2 separate regions of the Homo sapiens genome follow, and region 2 is linked to region 1. The links come from fine-mapping of genetic effects on gene expression. A gene starts in region 1. The other region holds a variant in brackets. All regions are shown on one strand. Distances are from middle to middle.

Region 1 (5,369 bases):
CCATCCTTCAGCGTGTTCCTCTGCTTCAGCTGTGCCAAGGTGCTGAATCCTGCGGGGACAGGGGTGGGGTTGTGAGCCTGGGCCACAGTCCACCTTTTAGGCCTACAAGGGCAGCTCCCTCAGGTCCCAGTGGCTCTCCTGAGTGCTCTAGGGCCATGACCATCACCACAAGAGGCAGGCCGGGCTAGGGTGGGGCGGACAGCTACAGGAGCGTCCCAGCCACCTGGCACACACCCATGACTCGCAGCTCTGTGCCGCAGCCCTGGTAGACCTCCGAGGTGTTGTTGCACTTCTGCTGACAGAAGTAGATGCCATTGTCCTCAAACCGGATGCCTTGGATGGTGAGGGTGGCGAGAGATTCGTTCTGGGACTCTTCCATGCGGCCCTTTTCCAGCTTCAGCTGCTGGGGATTCTCGTCCATCTCCTGCTTCCAGAGCCAGCTCACATTGCCGGAGGCGCTGTTCATGTAGCAGTGCATTTTCACCGTGAAGCCCCGTTTCCTGGCTATGAAACGTGGGCTCTGCCAGATCCGCGAACAAGCACTACCTGTGGGTGCCAAGGCCAGGCTCAGCATTCCGCTTGGCATCTTCCTGAGTGCCAGCCCCAGCAGCAGGCCCCTGCCCTGGCTGGCACAGACTCCCTGGGCTTAGTCCTTGCTTCTCAGGGTGTGGGACAGGCAGGAGGCTGAGGTTGGAGTTGGGAAGCAGAGCCACGTGAGAGGCTGAGCCACATGAGAAGCCACGGCCAAGCTCTCAGACTCCACCTCTTCCCGACTGCCCCACCTCCCCTTCGATTTTCCTTTGGAAGAGCCCTGGGACCTTGCCATTCCTTCCTATGCCCATTACAACAGCCTGACCCAGGCCACACCCCCAGGACCTGGAGGCCCACAGGCCTGGCCCCTCCTTTCACTGGGCTGCCCTGCACAGGCTTGAAATCCTCAGTCTCCCCCGTTCCTCCAGGGATAAAGGCCAAATTCCTAGTCTGTCAACTGAGACCTTCCTCAGTCGACCCCCTCCCTGCATGACTTCCCTCTATCATCCCCCTCTTCCCTCCTGCAGGGACTGGGTCCACTTCTTGTTCCAGAACCCTCTTTCCAGCTTCGACTGCCTTGTTCTTAGTGAGCACTGCCCGGGAATCCCTGAGCCCCTCACATAGTGACCCTGCACTGGAGGGCTCACCCGAGACTCAGCCAGATTCCCAGCTAGACAGGCCCGGGCCTGAGTCCTAGAGGAACCCCCAGGCTCCCTTGCTATGACCCAGAGTTTAGCCCAGCCCTTCAGTGGCCAAGGCTGGAGGGCATGTGTCTGATGAGGATGACAGTGGGCTGGGGGTGGGGCTCAGAGGAGATCCTAAGGAGGCCTGGGGATGGGAATCCTGGATGGGGAGATCAGGCAAGGGTGGGAAGGCGGACCGCCCCCAGGACAGGGACCATAGTCGGACACAGGACATAGTCGCACACAACTTGCCCTCAGAAGCGGCAGGCGAGGCTACTGACCTTTGGGATTCCGGTACCGGTCCTCCGATCTGGCTGCTGGTACTGGCTCAGCTGCTGGGTGGGAGGAAGTGGGCGGGGCCAGTCAGGGCCTCCTCTGGCCTGGGCTGCCCCACCCCTGCATGCCCTCTATGTTCCCGGAGCTACTTCCTCCTTCCATGACAGCAGCTTCAAGACCCCTCGGTCCTCCCTGCCCCCAGTACTTGGGAGACAGATATGGGGTGGGGGTACCGGAAGCCCTGCCCCCAGCCCCCTTTCTGCCTTTGACCCTCATGGTGGCTTTGAGCAGGCATCTGAATGAGACAGGAGGGACAGGGAAATCTCAGTATTTTGAGAGGCCAAGACAGGAGGATCGCTTGGGTCCAGGAGTTTGAGACCAGCCTGGGCAACATAGGGACACCCTGTCTCTCTTTTTTTTTTTTTTTTTAAAGAGAGACAGGAAGAAAGTCACAGCCCGGAGGATCTTTCACCTCCCAGAGGAGGGGACCACATTTGGATCTTGCATCTTCCAGGGTCCGGTTGGGACAGCCTCTCCCCTCCCGACCCCCAGGCACCGCCCTCAGCCTCTCTTCCTCCTGAGCCTAGTTCTTCCACGGTCCTGGTTGCTAACTCTGGTTTGCTCCTCATGCCCAGCTCAGCCTGATGCTCTCCAGGCAGGAGAGGAACTGGGGCCACAGGCTCCTGAGCCCATCACCACGTGCAGCTGACACCCACAGACCCAGGCCCCAGGGCCATGAGAGGGAGACAGGCGGTAAAGAGTGAGAGACAGAGGAGGAGGGTGGAGCAAGCAGGAGGCAGAGCCGCAGGGCCCAGACAGCTGGAGATGAGAGCAAACCCCACAGGCCTCGTCGTGGGTTCTGTACCTGAGAGCAGCAGCAGCAACGCCACCATCCAGTGGCTGGGCACAGGAGACAACGCCAGCCTGGCCATGGTCACCGCTCTGTCCCCGACCCCAAACCCGTGACAACGTCCGAGGCTCCTTGGAGGAAAACGTGTAACTGCACCGGCTGCAGCCTGTCCCCTCCCCGCCTCTTCCTCACCAGGCCCCTTCCTGCCATGCAAATTGGGACCCAGGGGAGGCACCAGCTCTCCGGGGACCCTGGGGGAGGGCAGGCTTTTGTCAGCTGGGCCGCTAAGGTTTGGCGGTCGCCCAGCTTGGGCAGCACAGCTGGGGTCCTCTGTGGATGCCTCTGGGGGGCCTCTCAGTCTTCTGGGGGAAGCCTGTGCTCCCCTCTGTCTGTGCTTACCCCACCGGTGGTCATCCCCTGGGCCAGCCAGCCTCCCCTCTGCCGTCTGCCAACTCCCCGAAGGGCCGAGCCCGGCAAGTCTCTATTCCTGGGCCGTGAGCGAAATAGGCACCTGTCCTATGAATGAACCTGAACTTAGCTCCTCTGTCCTGAACTATTCCTCACCCAGCGGGAAGAGGAGCACTGAAGAAGGACAGGGCAGCCACAGACCCAGGTCAGGCATCTGGAGGGGCCCAGAGCAGAGCCTCTTGGCTGGAGTGCAGGCAGCCATGTTGGAAGTTGACCCTGTGGAGGATGGGAGCCACAGAGGTTCTGGAGCAAGAGCAGGTCAAGTGTGGCAGCCACTGGGAGAAGATTCAGTCCAGGTCTTGGTGAGAGGCCTCCCTTCCTCATGCTGTGAAAGAGTATGTAGGGGCTGCCAAACAGGGTGGATGTAGGTGGAGACAGCTTTGCGAAAATCCACCACGCAGCCACTGGGGGCTTCTTCAGGGAGTTCTTAACTGTGGGACTCTGAGTGCGTTGAATTGTTGTCTGCAGGTCCAGGGGGTCTTGGGCAGGGAACAGGAGCTGGTGTGGGGGAGCCCTCAGGTCCTCCAGCTGTATCCTGCCTGTCCTCAGAGTGCTGGATGGAGCCACAGTGCTCAGGAACTGATATAAACTCACCTTTGCGCCCCTGCCCCTGGGTCCAATGCAGCCCCTTCAGAGATGCCCTTGTGCAGGGCACAACATGCACAAGTGTACACAGCATGCTTGCAGACCTCAGCCCTGCAGCTGAGCCCTCTGAATTTTATGTTTCCTGGCAGCTTCTTTTTTGTCTCTCATCCTCGACCCCCAGGAGAGGAAGAGATGCTAAATCGTCGGTGCCCTCTGTCCACCTCTCACTCTCCTCACAACCCTCCGTTTTCCAGTCTGTGCTGGGGCAGGTCTGTCTGGATTTAGGGAGAAGCAGAACCACCTCCCATGCCATGGTTGGAAGGCAGAGGGTCTGGGTGGTCCCTCTTTAGATCTTGGCCTAGGCCTCGGACCTGATAAGGTGGGGGCCACTCTCAAGGGGTGCAGGCCAGGACCTGAGCCACGGAAGTCAGGGGCAGGAGGGTTAAGGTTTCATCCGAGGAACAGCCCGTTCCGGGCAGCCCCAGATGTTCTTTCTTGTTTCCAGATGTTCCAAATGAAAAAACATTTCTCTGAAAAGCTGTCAGATGTTCAGTTCATGGAATAAACAGCTCAGAAATATAAACATCACCTGAGGTCAGCTTGAGGCCCATGGGCCCGCATGCTGGTGAGGGTGGCTGGAGAGAGACTGACCCGGGGGGAGTGGGGCAAAATCTGGGAGTCTCATGGTTTAGGAAATACTCTTCCTGAGCCCCTAACGACAGAGTCCTTCATTAACTTTGGGGCTAGTGTCTCCCCAAAGTTGGGGGGTATAACTGGGAAAGGCTTGGGGCACACGTGTTTGTGGGGGGTGTGTGTGTGTGTGTATGTGCATGCTCACACAGGTGTGTTGCCTGGACCCTGTGGTGTGGGGCCTACTCTGGAGCTGGTCCTAGGGCTCAGCGGACTGTAGGGGGCACGGAGGTTGGTGGGGGGCAGTTGGCACCCATCCTCAGGTGACAGGTGCGCTAAAATCTCAGAAATCACCACTAAAGAACTTATCCAGGTAACCAAAAAAACTACCTGTACCCCAGAAAATATTGAAATAAAAAATTTAAAAAAACAAGTGAGAAGCAGCTCCCACTCCAGGGAGGGAAGACACACACATCCCGTGGACAAGGATGCAGATGTGGCCTTTGGGCTTCATTCCCATTCATGCCGGGCAGGGATCTGTTTTCAGGAGGGGCGGAGGCAGCGGGGGCCCCACCGCCTGCAGGGTTATTTGTCACATTTTGAGCCGTGCTGTTCCCTCACTGGTGACAACAGCCCTGAGCCCCATTTTGGGCTCATGATGCCCTTTTCTTCCCAGAACAGGAGGCCTCACAAGCCTACCCCTGCCTCTGCCCTCGGCTGCCCGGGGCTTCACATTCTGACTTCTGACGACACCTCCCTTTCCAGGAAGGCAACATCAAAATAAGGAATGGGGGCCAGGGTCGGGCGAAGGGACAAGGGGCTCAGGGGGTGGGGAAGCAAGAAGGCAGCGACCCCCAGCCACCCTAGGATGCCGGGAGGGGGAAGAACCTCAGGGAAAGAAGAGCTCAGACCCCTGCCTCCTTCTCCAGCCCAGGTGTCCTGGATCTGCTGGGCTGCTGTGACTGGGAAAAGACCTGCTAAGAAGGACGTGGGTTTGAGTCCTGACCCAGCAGTGTAGCAGCCAGGAAACCTCCCCAGGTTACCAGTGGTTCTCTACTAAGGGTGGCTCTGCCCCAACGGAGGGAGCGTCTGCACATGCATCAGGGCAATCGCGCTGGTCTCAATGACCGGTGGGTGCCTGGGGCGGGAGGGGCATTGGCTGGCAAAGCAGAGTTCCCTGCCCCACATGCCAACAGCACCCATGAGGCAACACCCATTCTTAACCTCTCAGTGACCAAGGTTCCTCATTTTCGTAAAATAGAAATAAGCCCAATAGCGCGTTTTTTTGTTGTTGTTTTCTGGGGTTTTTCTGAGACAAGATCTTGCTCTGTTGTCCAGGCTGGAGT
Region 2 (5,369 bases), 28 kb before region 1:
CTGAGCTTGTTGACATCATTAAGGATCAGTGGCAAGCTGCAACTCAGTAACCATCTGTTGTGGGTCTTGGGGGAGTATACAGATGGTAAGAAATTCCACTTCGGGCCAGACAAGCATCGTATCTAGCCCAGTGTTCTGTCTCTGAAGTAGAAGGTAGAGTTCTTCCATGAAATTGGCCTCTTAGGTTAAGAGCTCCAAACATCTCTGAATTCCTTTTCATAGAGTGATCAACTGTGAGTTCGCATTTGCCAGTTTTCTTTTTTTTACCCATATAGGTGTCTAGGTTAGAGTTGCAATGTTTACTCTCTGTTTTCATCAAGAAGTGCATATTTTTTTCTGACTGTAAACAATTTCCTTGAAGCTTCAAGAGGAATCCTCTTGTGAAAATGTTCATATGATTTTATGGTTCAGCCTCCTTCCCTGTCCTTCGGAAAGAGTATATTCACCCTCGGAGAAGGCGTGAGGAATCACAAAACCAGATCTTTTCTCCCAAGTCAGTCAAGAAATGTTCACTGGAATGTTGCTATGGTAAAAATAAAAGTGGTTTTATGATGTCCAAATGCAGTTCCCTTCCCTTCTGTGTCATTGCTGAAAGCTCTTGTTATGTCAAATGGTTGCATTTTATCACTTTTTTTTTTTTTCAGATGCAGTCTCGCTCTATTGCCCAGGCTGGAGTGCAATGGCGTGATTTTGGCTCACTTCCACCTCTACCTCCTGGGTTCAAGGATTTCTCTGCCTCAGCCTCCCAAGTAGCTGGGATTACAGGTGCCCATCACCATGCCCAGCTAATTTTTTGTATTTTTAGTAGAGACAGGGTTTCACCATCTTGGCCAGGCTGGTCTTGAAGTCCTGATCTCGTGATCCACCCACTTCGGCCTTCTAAAGTGCTGGGATTACAGGTATGAGCCACCGCTCCCGGCTGCATTTTATAACTTTAAGTACAATTTCTAAGGAAAAAATACCGTGTTGATAGCATAAACAACCAGCCCGGGGCAGGGGGTGCATTAGCTCAGGGTGGCAGCCTATGTAAACTGCTTTCAAAACTGAAATTCAGGCCGGGGCGGTGGCTCAGCGTGTAATCCCAGCACTTTGGGAGGCTGAGGCGGGCGAATCACTTGAGCCCCAGAGTTTGCGAATAGCCTGGGCAACATGGCAAACCCCATTTCTACAAAAAACACAAAACTTAGCCAGGTATAGTGGCACGTGCCTGTAGTCCCAGCTACTTGAGAGTCTGAGGTGGGAGGATCACTTGGGCGCGGGAGGTGGAGGGTTGCAGCGAGTTGAGATCATGCACTGCACTCCAGCCTGGGTGACATAGCCAGACCCTGTCTCAAAAGCAAAACAAAGGAAACACAAGCAAAAAGAAAAGCTAAAGTTCAGACTTCCAGATAGAGAGAGGTCCATAGCTTTCCAAATTGCAGATACCAGCTAGAAAAAACCATGGCATCAGACAGCAGAGGGAAAACGTTTTCCCATTCTTCCCAGACCTCCCCTGAGTCTGGTGCTATAGATTAAGTGTAAAAGTAACCCTTTGGTTTCACCACATACAAGGCAGTGGGGATACAGTGGTGAACAAAACATTGTTCCTGGCTTCCACAAATTTATTAGGAAAGCAAGACAAACAAGTAGGAGATTACATTTGTGCATGAACTCCTATGACTGGGAAAACAGATTGTTAAGAGAAAGCATAACTCGAATCAAGGAAGGCTTCCTGGAGGGACACGAAATATCTTGACTTTATAAAATAGCATCATCCCCGAACATGACCTTTTCAACCTCAATGTTTCCACTAGGTGGAGCTACTGCTCCTTCATCATGTGAGTCTAATATAAATCATCCACCTTCCCTGAATTGAGCATTTGGGGAAGTAAGTTAAGAAGCAGGTTTAAGAGACAGGAGTATACAGCCACACCATGCAGGGATCCACAGCCATTTTGGTGTCAGGATCAGTCGCATCAGGGCTGTAGATATCCTGTATCTGCAAACCCTGCCTCATGGCCTCAGTGCCTTGAAGCACAGCGAATCCAACAAGGAAGGGGAAAATGAGCCAGGCATGGTGGTGTGCACCTGTAATCCCAGCTACTGGGGAGGCTGAGGCAGGAGAATCGCTTGACTGTGGGAGGCAGAAGTTGCAGTGATCCGAGATCGTGCCATTGCATTCCAGCCTGGGCAACAAAGCGAGACCCCATCTTGAACAAAACAAAAACAAAAGCAAACAAAACCAAAAAGGGAGGAAGAAGGGGGCCACTTGGACTTTCTAGTTCCAGCAGGGCGAGCCTGGAGGCTCAGCCGGCTGCTGCCTTTGCTTCTCACTGCTACAGGGTGTCAGTGTTGACAGATGGTCCCACACAGTACCCTCAAACCAAGCGGGTCTGCAGATCTGGGTTCCCACCTGCTGTAGATCTCTGAGGGAGGATGATCTGCTTCTTCGGGGCCTGGTCCAGCTCTGCAGGTGTCCTCTTGCTGGGGTTTCCAGCTTTCCAGTTCTTAGAGCTCAGTAGTTTGGATGAGCCGTCCCGCAAAGCTCTTCAGAGTAGGCTGGGCTTTTTCCCTTGTAGACTTGGAACCTCTGTTCACTTTCCTTCCCGAAGGATCCACACAACCAGAGATCAGGCAGGCCTTTCTCATTGATTCTTTTTTTTTTTTTGGAGACGGAGTCTCGCTCTGTCTCCCAGGCTGGAATGCAGTGGCACGACCTCGGCTCACTGCAACTTCTGCCTCCTGGCTTCAAGCAATTTTCCTACCTCAGCCTCTGGAGTAGCTGGGATTACAGGTGTGCACCACCACACCTGGCTAATTTTTGTGTTATTAGTAGAAACAGGATTTCGTCATGTTGGCCAGGCTGGTCTCAAACTCCTGACCTCAGGTGATCTGCCCACCTCGGCCTCCCAAAGTGCTGGGATTACAGGAGTGAGTCACCACGCCCGGCTTCATTGATTCTTAAAGCAAGAAGGATCTCATATCTCTTTTCCAGTATAATAGAGCTTCTAAGGGTAGTTGCCTTCATTGTCTATAGGAGGAGGCCCCACCCTCTAAATGGTTTTGATCATATTCTTTCTGAACATTAAAGCAACCAGCTCATACTTAAATTGCAGCTACCTTGATTATCTCCAGAGGAAGAGTGGCCTTTAATACTCCAAAATTTTATCTTCTTTCTTATTATTTTTGAGAGAGAATCTTCCTCAGCCACCCAGCTGGAGTGCAGTGGC[T/A]TGATGGGCCCAGCCCAACACTGCCTCCCGGGCTCAAGCGATTCTCATGCCTTCGTAGCTGGGAATACAGGTGTGCACCACCACACCTGGCTAATTTTTGTATTTTTTAGTAAGAGACGGGGTGCCACCATGTTGGCCAGGCTTATCTCGAACTTGTGACCTCCTCCCGCCTCAGCCCTCCAAAGTGCTGAGATTACTGGCGTGAGCCACAGTGCCTGGCCATTTATGCTCTCAAGGATGGTCAGGGTGACATTCTGGTGTCTTTCTCTCTAGACCTGAGAAAGCATAAGTTACATCGTTAGTGGGACTTCTTACCATAGGATTAATAATAGTATTTACCTTAGAGAATTATAGTTAGAAAGAAATGACATAATACTTGTAATAAACTAGCATGGTGCTGGAGACATGTGTTCACATTTGTTGGTTTTTATTATTACACTGATAATTCTAGTGGTAATTAAGCACATCATTATAATCACAGTAAACTCAAAGCAAGAATCAGAAATCCATGATAACCATGAGGGCCATCAAAGGTCATATACACTGTGCACAGCTTTCCGGTTTTTCTAGTCTTTTTCTTGCTCCTTCCCCTACTTTCCCCCCAGTTTGGTGCCCTAAGATTTAGGACTACTAATAGGGTGACCAGTCCTGTGAGCTGAGTTTGCATTGAGCTGAGGGATTCCTGGAAGGAACGTGGGACTTTCAGTGTTGACATTGAGAAAGTCTCCTGCAAACCAGGACGAGTTGGTGACCCTAATCCCAGAGGTACTCATTGTGTGCCTCAGCACTCCAGGGCCTTCTGAATTAAAGAAGCATCCAGGCAAAGTGTCAGCTTGTCTTGGCTGAGAAGCCCAGACCCTACAATTCAGAAGAAAAAGGAAGGGGTCAGTTCTGCTCTCAACTGTGTATAAAGGGACAAAACCAACCATGTGTATTTCAACAATGCTCATGGAAGATATTCAGAAGTGGTCATTTTAGGTTAGGGTAAATTCAAAAAAATGACAGAGTCAGTAAAACATTATGCCAGGGGTCAAGGATGACTGGAGCTCTGCCTGCTGAACTCTTCCCTGTGCGAGTCTCGATAATCTTATCTTCAGGAAGAGTTTTCATTAGAAAATACCATTAAGGGCCAGGCCTGGTGGCTCCCGCCTGTAATCCTATCACTTTGGGAGGCCAAGGAGGGTGGATCACCTGAGGCCAGGAGTTTGAGACCAGCCTGGCCAACATGGCGAAACCCTGTCTTTACCAAAAATACAAAAATCTGCCCTGTGTGGTGGTGCACACTTATAATCCCAGCTACTCAGGAGGCTGAGGCATGAGAATCACTTGAACCCGGGAGGAGGCGGAGGTTGCAGTGAGCCAAGATCCCACCACTGCACTCCAGCCTCTGTCTCAAAAACAAAAACAAAAACAAAAGAAACTATTAACAATTTTTAGTTGTGAGAAGATATAAACATTTCCATCTTAACCATTTTACGTGTACAGTTCGGTCACGTCAAGTACATTGACATCGTCATGCAACCCTCACCACCAACCATCTCCAGAACCCTTTTCATCTTGCACAGCTGAAACCCTGTGCTCGTTAAATGGCTCCCTATTCCATCCCTCCCCACAGCCACTGGCAGCCACCATCCTACTTTTTGTCTCTACGAATTTGACTGCTCTGAGTACCTCATCTAACTGGAATCAGAGAGTATTTGTCTTTCTGTGACTGGCTCACGATAAACACTTTTTAGATGACTGGTTGGAATTAGGAGCAGGTGGCACCACAACTGGCCCAGGCCTCTCGTCTCCTTTTTCTCCGTTTTCCCTGTTCCACCAATACAACAGCTGTGAACACATGGGTCTCATCTTTGCGGTCCCTAACACAGTGGTTCTCAACCTTGTTTACATGATAGAATCACCTGGGAAAGTTTTCAAACTACTCTTGCCTGGACCACATTCCAGGCTAATTATATCAGAATCTCAGGGAGTGAGGGCTCACGAATGCATCGTTTAGAAAACACCCTAGGCATCTCAAATTTGCAGCGGAAATTGCCGTCCACACCAAGTTGATGAGCTGAAAGGTAGACTAACAGTAGGTAAATCAAAGAGTTTAAAGCAGATGGTCTTTAAGGTCTTTTTATATTCTAAAATGTGCAAAGTCAGGTAGTATCTTTC

Alleles and levels. Alleles are on the strand shown, and positions count from the first base shown. SD is a standard deviation of normalised expression in the study named.
With allele T in place of A in region 2, the expression in esophagus muscle of the gene that starts at base 2,492 in region 1 is lower (small effect, 0.38 SD a copy in GTEx).

The links. PIP is the estimated chance that this variant, and not a neighbour inherited with it, causes the effect. A credible set is the group of variants that fine-mapping cannot tell apart.
Region 2: its variant is the best candidate, but not a certain one, in a credible set for the expression of CD79B in esophagus muscle (GTEx, PIP 0.76).

What each region holds. Positions count from the first base shown.
Region 1 is chr17:63,929,840-63,935,208 of GRCh38, forward strand. It overlaps CD79B (CD79b molecule), which reads right to left and starts at 2,492. Exons shown (of 6, transcript NM_000626.4): 1 at 2,356-2,492; 2 at 1,496-1,546; 3 at 235-546; 4 at 1-49. The coding sequence starts at 2,422. RefSeq lists a silencer at 1,342-1,411 and enhancers at 2,109-2,498, 2,472-3,142, 2,999-3,108, 3,119-3,168, 3,742-5,346 and 2 more.
Region 2 is chr17:63,902,152-63,907,520 of GRCh38, forward strand. No RefSeq gene overlaps it. Among named protein-coding and RNA genes, the nearest start is that of CSHL1, 6.4 kb to the right of the region's middle. The variant T/A (reference allele first, on the strand shown) is at 3,210.